Regions from separate parts of the Homo sapiens genome. Here regions 2 and 3 are each linked to region 1. Evidence: fine-mapped expression QTL. A gene starts in region 1. Each other region holds a variant in brackets. All regions are shown on one strand. Distances are between the middles of the regions. Region 1 holds the start of GSDME (gasdermin E). Region 2 overlaps GSDME (gasdermin E). Region 3 overlaps GSDME (gasdermin E).

Region 1 (2,758 bases):
TTCATCATTTCTTTCTAAAATAAAAATCGGTATGTGAACGCAATGATGGTCATAAGACAGGCAGGAGCTCGAAAGGAGAAGGAGAGTGAGGCGCCAAAGGCTTTGGGGAAGTGGAGTGGGTAACAGAGGGCAGTCTGGGTAAGAATAGAGAAGATGCGGTGTGGTGGCAGGCACCTGCGGTCTCAGCTACGGGTGTATGGGAGGATCCCTTGAGCCCAGGAATTCAAGGCTGCAGTGAGCTAGGATAGTGCCACTGCACTCCAGCCTTGGTGACAGAGCGAGACCCTCTCTCAACAATAACAAAGAACCTAGCCAAGGGACCGTGGCTAGGGGGTTGGGCCCTTTCTCTCTCAGATCTACCTAATGGTCTGGGCTCAACTTCTCCTTTAGAAAAAGAGCTTGGTGGTGGTAGATTGTGAAGACAATTAATTTCACTCTTCAGCTGCTTCTCCAACCCCACAGCACTCCTTTCATTCCACTTGGACTTGCCCCACCTGCCTGCGTCTCGAGGACAGCGACCGCAAGCCATCCATCCCTTTCATTATCCCATTCACTATTCTGGACAGAGTAGACTCTGGAGGAGTGGGTGGTCGGTGTGTTCAGTCCACAACCAGCGCTTTTCTAAGAGGTGCCCTCTAGTCTTTCCCCTCGGGGTGCAGACGGCAAGCGGCTCTGGAAAGGGTCAGAGGTCCTCAAATGGAGACCAAAGGAAGCCACGCGGGCAGCTCTTGAGAGCCATTCCAGCGCATGCCAGGCACACCGAGTGGGGCTTGGCCTCCTCCCCAAGCTAGGAGCTCTCTAGATACCGGAGCAAAGTGGAGGGGGACTTTTTTCCGTCCAGAGAGACTGAACTCCGTATCTGTTCCGCGGTCCGCCTCCCTGCACACACGCCCCCGAGCCGGGAGAGCCTCCGCAGCACCCAGAGAAGAGACCGGAACACAAAGGATGAACGAATGGGGAGGGGGGGTTTGGGGGGTTGGGAGAACGAAAATACCAGCTGCGCTTCCAACATCCAAGGAAGGAAGTGGCAGCGGGGACGGGGAGAGGATGGGAAGGGGATGCTGACTGCGAGTTGGGGCGGGACGCGGTGATGGGAGGGGACCGGGCCGGGAATGCGGGAGGCGAGGGGAGCGACGGGACCTGCCGTTCCGGCGGCCGGGCAGCCAATCGATTCGTCTCCCCTAGGAAGGAGCGAGGGGAGGGTGGCCCAGAGAGAAAGCGCCGCGCGGCCTCGGCTGCCCCCGGCCCGGGACACCCAAACAGACCAAAGAGGATCCGGAGTGGAGCCCGGAGCGGATCCCGCAGCCCGCGCCCGCCGCGCACTTACCCGCGCGCCCGCTGCTGGGTCCCCGGCAGCCGCGCCCCCTGCGCTGGCGGAGTCGGAGGAGCCTGCGCTGGGCCGGCGGGGGGCGGGCGCTTGGGGAGGGCGGAGAGAGGGCCCGCCCGCCGGGACCTTTGCTCGGTCCGGGCGCCCCAGAGCCGCGGGACTGGCCGCCGGAGGCTGCGGGAGGGGCCCGGGCCAGACCTCCCAGAAGCCCCAGAGAGAGCCGCTTCCCCTCCTTCGTGTGACTCTCTGGGAGCCGGGTTGCTGACGGCCCAGCGCTCAGCCGGAGTCCCCGCGCGCTTTTCGGGACTCACCCGGGAGATGTCGGGGCCTCTCGGGAAGAGTGGGCTGCGCCTGCCTTCCGCGGCCGCCTCGCCTCTTCGCTGCGCGGGACCGTGGGGTTTGAGAGCGGCGCCTCCTCGCGGGGCCGAACCCGCCACCCACAGTGGAGTGTGGACTGACACCGCGGCCTCACGGTTCAACCAGGAAAGTCCAAGGCCTGTCCAGCCTGTGGGAGCCCCTAATGCCCGTGCCTGGAGTAGTATCTGGGTGTGTGGTGCGACAGTGCCCACACTTAGGCCTGCCGCTAATCAGTGATTCATTCCTGTAAACTCCACTCTAAGCTCCTTGAGGGCAAAACCAGGCGCTCTCACACACTGGGTGCTCAACGAATACTGAACGAGGGAATCTCAGCATAGCTGGTGCTCAAACATTGCTTTCTGATGAACTGACTTAAATATTAGCTCTTTTTGTAACATTAGGACCAGCTGAAACCGATTAACCATTACTTAAGTTGTTACAGCGAGGCAGAGCCAAAATCTCCCGGGCGTGTGCAAGAGGGAAAGCTTTCTAATTGTGAACACCGCGCGCCCCGCAGAAGGCTGCATTGGCATCACCTGGGACTGGTTAGAAATGCCAAAAACGCCTGACCCGCTCCCAGGTCCAGAAGACAGATTTAAGCTTTGCCTCTTGTCTCCTTGCCAGTTGACTGGCAATAGAAGTTTTTCTTTTCTCAAAAGCCTGTGCCACAGTTTGGTTTCTGTGTGCCTCAGGTTACGAGCCCATTGCTCAGTGACACTTTCAGTCAGTGTATCGTCTTCACTGTGCAATGCTCTCTACTAAGCTGAGAGCAAAGAGTAAGAGAAAATGAAATTTCTGCCCTGCGAGAGCTCACACAGTATGGAGTTGTGTGGCTGTCTTAAAGGCTGTTCGGGGAGGGCAGGTAGAGAAGCCCGGCAGCGCTTTCCCTTGGGCCCCGCTATGCTTTAAACATATCTCTAGATTGCAATTATCCACCTCACTGTAAAGCCTTTCCTGACTATCCAAATTAAAAGTGCTGCCCACCCACCCACGGGAACACCTCCTAGTTCCTCCTCTGCTTTATTTTTCTCTTTGCACTCACCACCATCTGATAGACTGTGTGCCTCTTATTTC
Region 2 (2,758 bases), 34 kb before region 1:
ATATAAACCCCACAGAGGTGGTGAGTGTGCTCTCCTGTTGACTGCATATCTCAGGGCCAGGATCAATGCCTAGTACGTAGGAAGAGCTCAGGAAATATTTTTGGAATAAATGAGTAAATAAAACTTGTGAGGTTTTTTCCTCTATTGGTTGAATGAATGTGTACATATGTATTTGTGCATCCACGTGTGAAAGACAGAAGACACGGAAGATGGGGGAAATGGAGGATCTGCAGCTTGGATCAAAAAATGGTGCATAGCAGATGCGATCTTCCTAAGGGATTGCATGTCTTGGTCCCATAGGCAAAGACTTTAAAGATAAAAGCCATTGTAACCACCGGTCAGAACATACATTCAACTGTTCCCTTTCCAATGGTCTCTTCCTTCTATTGCTCAAAATTCTAGCAGATTCTTGAACGTCTGTCTGTGCCCTCACAACTAAGGCATGGGCTCCTCCCAGCTAGACGCACGTCAGACACATCACCGCCTGGTGACGACCCCACAACTGCCGCCTTTAGGAGTCTGATGTGACTCTGCTGGATTGGAAATCACAGCCCTCCTACCCGCCCTAAACAGAATCCACTGAACACTGGACACTGCTCCTAGCCAGTGTGAAATTGTTTGAAAAGAAAAAGCTCAGCCTAGACTACTCAAGACTCCACTGCTTAAAATGCCCACCTCCCTCCAGAACCCCCACCTCAAACACCAAAAGAGAGGGGCAGCCATCTACGCAGGTGGGCAGGCAACTGCCTGCTGTATCCGATGACAGGGCAGTCCTGAGACGCTTGCTGAGTCGCTGCCTTCAAAAGGTCTCTGTGGGGCGGACCCACCACAGCGCAGGAACAGAAGCTCGCCCAGGGACGGAGACTGTCTCCAAGGCTAGGATTCGGGTGACCAGAAACGTGTCACACAGCCACAGCTCATGCAGGCCACTGGGAATCCTTCCCTGGGCAACCAAGGCAGGGCTGCCGGAAACTGCAGGCATCATCCACCTAGCAGCAAACACTTCCACCCAAGTCACTGGGATTCTGTTTCCCAGGACAGTGCTGCCAC[CT/C]TTTGGAAACCAAATGCTGGAAATATTTAATCATCTTCAGTTAGGAGAGGCCCCACAGGGACAGCGGGGAAGCTACACATCAGGGAAAATGGATTTTTCGTTTGACTCTCTGAAAAGCAATCTCGGGAGGGAATTCTTCCCCATCTCCTCCCTCAGTCAATTCCACCAAGCCCCAAGCAGCCCCAGGGGGAGAGCTGGTGTCCCCTGGGGACGGTGTTCTCAGGTGCAGACCCAGAACAGTTCAAGGTCACCAGACCCTGGCTCTGGCCCTCCTCAGAACAGAAATCACCATGCAACAGGGCTCCCCTGTGCCCGCCTAGTGCAGAAACCAGCCAAATTTCAATGCAATTTGTTTACTGTATAACCTTATATATTTTATTATAAGCATTTAAAGAGGCCCATGGGTTTCTTCAACTGCTAATAGAGTTCATGAAACAAAACATTTAAAACTCTCAGTTGAGGGTTTCAGAAGAGTTTAAAAAAAAAGAGCCTAGAGAGGTTGATGGTAGTAACCAAAGTCACACAGCTGTGAAGCCCAGGTCTTTTACAATGGCCCACATGGCCATAGCACCCATAGCTGCTGTCTCCCTCTTCTGGGTGAGGGCACCCTTGGGCTGTACTAGGAATTGAATCTTCATCTCTATTAACTCTTGTATTGCTATGTTCATTTCTATATGTAAATATCTTGCCTATGTAACCAGACCAGTAGATGGAGGCTGGAAAAGCAAGTTATACCCAAGTCCTCTGGGAATCCTTATCAGAATATCCATGCCTGCCTGTTCTCCCCAAGCCCATCTCACTCTCCTCGTGGCTGCCGCCCTGTGCCATTTGACAGTTCTTCCCCAACTTGTCCTGATTTCTTTCCTCTCGGGCCCTGTGAGAGCCACTGAGCAACACAGACAGAATGGCTTTAGAGACACAGAAAACTATTAGTAGTGGTCGCCTCTTGGGTGGGGAACCAGATGGCGGGGAGGGGCTTTTCACCTTTTCTCTTTTGACCTTTTGACATTTAAACCATGTGAATAGATTGCCCAGTTCCAAAAAAAAAAAAAAGTATTTTAAAAAAAGGCCTTCTGGACAGACTGTAAGCTCCTGGAGGACAAAGTACTTGCTCTTTTTATTGGTGCCTAGCCCTGTGCTATCCACCCAGCTGGGGGATAAAATGAATGGTTTATCACATAAACCCGGGCAGGACTGGAATGAGACCCTCTCCCCAAGTCCAGCCAGGAGCCAATGCCCAAAGACAGGGAAAATGGAGCAGAAGCTCTTCCAGGAGAAAATGAACAAGCAGAGGTTCTTCATCCGCTTCACACATCTAAGGGCAGGCTCCTTGTTCTTCCTGGCGGGGGCGGCAACGTGAAAGCAAGAACAGGAGGCCACTGAGGCAGAGGCGTATATCCTCAACAGAAAGGGCCAGCCCCAAAGGAGCAAGTCTGGAGGCAGGGGAAGGGGGTGCATACTCAGTCGAGAAGAACTCCCTCTCCTCACTCAGGGGCTTGGCTCAACTCCGCCCACCCAGTTCTACTGTGAGGTTGCCCTTCTGCGCGTACCTGGCAGGTCGATATAACACAAAGACCTGGAGTCATCCCGGAATCGGTTCCCTGCTCCAATGTGGTTTAATGTTTGTCCCTTCTAAGTTTCATGTTGAAATGTGATCCCCAGTGCTAGAGGTGGGCCCTGGTGGGAGGTGTCTGGGTCACGGGGGTG
Region 3 (2,758 bases), 40 kb before region 1:
AGAGACTAGAAGAACAATTTGATCCTCTTCATGATGCACTTTTTTTGGAAGACAAGTCTTTTCAAAGAGAAAGATGACAATAATAACGAAAACGCCCCAGAGGACACAAATTTGGAACTACGGGCCTCAAGGAAGCCACAACACCTGGTATTCTCAGCATTTCTTGGTCCCTGACAGACCTCTTTGACCAACTGCTTCAAACTGACACTTTCTCTTTCTGTCACCTCAGATAAATCATTTCACCGCCCTAAAATGCAGGCTTCTTCATTTGCAGAATGAGAGAGGGAGACTCTGTGCACTCCTTCTGTGCCTCGCCTGTTTCTCCTAGGGATCCTCAACACCCTTCAGCTTGTGGACAGCAGCACACGAGGACACTGAGCATTCTGTTTGAGTCCCTCTAGTGGCTGCTGAATGGCGTAGTGACTCATGTGGGCTTAGCGAGGGCAGGAGCTGTCTCACGGGAGACTGCCCCCCACCCGCCTTCCACAAATGGGGGAGAAGCAGGAGGCAGCAGCAGGCATGTGCGTGGTCTATCACGGCCCTTTTAAAAACTGCTGTTACAGAAAATGTCAAACTGCACAGGAATAGAGAGGAGGAGCGTGAACCAGCGTGTGCCCATCAGCCAGCTTCAGCCACTGTCCCCTCTCAGCCAAGCCTCCTTCCCTCGGCAGCTGCCCATGCTCACACCCTTTATGCTCCACTCATATTATTTTTGAATCAAACCACAGACATATTACCATTTCATCCGTGAATGTTTCAGTGTACATCTCTCAAAGATAGGATGACTCATTTTTATAAATATAACTATAATACCATTGTCACACCTAAAAAACTTCACAATTTATTATGTTACATTTACCCACTCATGTCCCTAAGGAGCGGTCACACAGCTTTCATGAGTGAACACAACCTCTTCTCATTGGGAACATGAGGAGGGAAGGGGCTGTGAACACCTAAAGTGAGCAGACACGCTGAACCAAAGCTTGGATTTTCTTCCGTGACAACAGCTGGGTCTCTGCGCTTTGAACACACTCGTGATCAGCAGAGGAAAGTCAAGTTCAGCATGTCTGGCTTCATACTTGTGGAGAGGAGGTGGGGTAACAATAATGATGATAATGCTATTAATAGCAAAGGTGGAGGAA[TTAA/T]TAAATGACCACTGTGCCAGGCGCTTCATAGGCCTCATCTCATTAAATCTTCACACAGCCCTGTGAAGAAATGCCCTTCACCTTCCAGAGACAGGGAAGCCAAGACTCAGCAAGATTCAGCAACTTGCCTGAGACCTCATAGGACATCATGGCACCGGGGTTGATGCCCAGTGTGTCTGATGCAGAGCCCAGGTTGATGCCCAGAGGACACAGCCCAGCCCTCTACTGTGCTGGTGGAACTTTGCCCCACACCAATGTTGGAGGAGAGGGTGGCATTGCTCCAGGCATCCCTCACCACACCCCTCCCCCAGTGCAGCCCATGTGTCCAGGGACCATGTCTTGGGACAATCTACGCTCTTCAGACCTCTTTCCCTCTCTTCCCACAGTCTCCAAAGCAGTCGAGTCCTCTGGAAAGCAGTCAAGTCCCTCTGCTGAGGGATCCTCTGCTGGGGATCCCTCAGCACCCATAGGAGGTGGCACTCACCGAACTGGCCGTCCAGTTTCACGTATAACTCAATGACACCGTAGGCAATGGTGGTGGCAGCTGGGATCTCCAGCACCACGTTGGAGTCCTTGGTGACATTCCCATCCTCCGTCGCTGACACCTGTGGGCAAAAGCGCACACTCCCACCTGTGCACTCGGGCTCTCCAAGCTGCTCTGTTCCCCACTGCAGCCAGCCTCGTGCCTTATACATAAGAGATGCTGAGCAATGTCCACAGAACCGAGTGGAACAGAGGAGCCAGCCAGCATGGGGGATGGGGGGATTCAATCCTTGTTGGCATCAGTACACAAATTCCCAAGTAAACGGCCAACCTGGTGGCATCAAAGCGAGATTATAGAGCGTGGGATACAGTGAAGTTAGGTCTACAGTGCTGTGCAAAGATCATACGATACGTAAGATCACCTCCCAATTCCCTCCATCACAGGTTATGGAAACAACTGAAATCCTAATGAAAACCTTAAACAGTAGCCAAGTTGGACTGGGAGAACCTAGCTGAGAGGGCCCCCTACCCCGTGCATATCACTCCAGACCCCTGTAGATGGTGCACAGTGCTGATAAAACCAGGAACAGAGAGGGAAGTGGGAAGAGGCCGGAGGGAGGAGAGGCAGGAAATGCCAAGAAGTCAGGCACCAAGCTCCTGCCTTTAAACACTCTCACAAACAGGACCCCTTCCCACGATGTCCTGGTGAGAGGAAGATGAGAATCTATTTGTTGGCCAAACACTGGCAATCAGAGAACTTTTCTTAGCAACTTGATCCTGGTCAGAGTGTGTTGCTTTGGGTTGAGAAATGGCAGCTGGCCTCCTGACTCTGAAAGGCTTCAACACTTTGGCAGGAAGTGACTGTGGCAGGAGCACCAGCAGGGCCGGCCTGAGCCATCTCCCATCGGCGCCTCCCTCGCTGCTACCCAGCCCCAACCCAGTAAGAGTGCTGGCCCCAGACCTCTACCTCCAGCTCCTTCCAAATACAACTTTCTGAGTTCCTCTAGAAAAAGCCAAAAGTCATCCCAAGAAGTAAATCTCTAAGAAAATATCAGCCACCATGGCAAGCTGGAGGAGAAAGAGTTTGGGGCTGATGGCCACCTAGTCCATTGAAGTTTAGTACTGGCTCA

What was found. PIP is the estimated chance that this variant, and not a neighbour inherited with it, causes the effect.
Region 2: its variant is fine-mapped to the expression of GSDME in thyroid (GTEx, PIP 0.94).
Region 3: its variant is fine-mapped to the expression of GSDME in whole blood (TOPMed, PIP above 0.99).

Annotation. Positions count from the first base shown.
Region 1 is chr7:24,756,069-24,758,826 of GRCh38, forward strand. It overlaps GSDME (gasdermin E), which reads right to left and starts at 1,396. Exons shown (of 10, transcript NM_001127453.2): 1 at 1,328-1,396. LOC124901820 (translation initiation factor IF-2-like) reads right to left here. Exons shown (of 3, transcript XM_047421177.1): 2 at 1,594-1,869; 3 at 256-1,501. The coding sequence ends at 788. RefSeq lists silencers at 946-995, 1,006-1,585, 2,396-2,545 and an enhancer at 1,666-1,895.
Region 2 is chr7:24,722,085-24,724,842 of GRCh38, forward strand. The region is part of intron 3 of GSDME (gasdermin E); the gene reads right to left. Among named protein-coding and RNA genes, the nearest start is that of GSDME, 34 kb to the right of the region's middle. RefSeq lists an enhancer at 2,300-2,758. The variant CT/C (reference allele first, on the strand shown) is at 1,051.
Region 3 is chr7:24,715,625-24,718,382 of GRCh38, forward strand. It overlaps GSDME (gasdermin E), which reads right to left. Exons shown (of 10, transcript NM_001127453.2): 5 at 1,630-1,750. Among named protein-coding and RNA genes, the nearest start is that of GSDME, 40 kb to the right of the region's middle. RefSeq lists an enhancer at 2,056-2,643. The variant TTAA/T (reference allele first, on the strand shown) is at 1,143.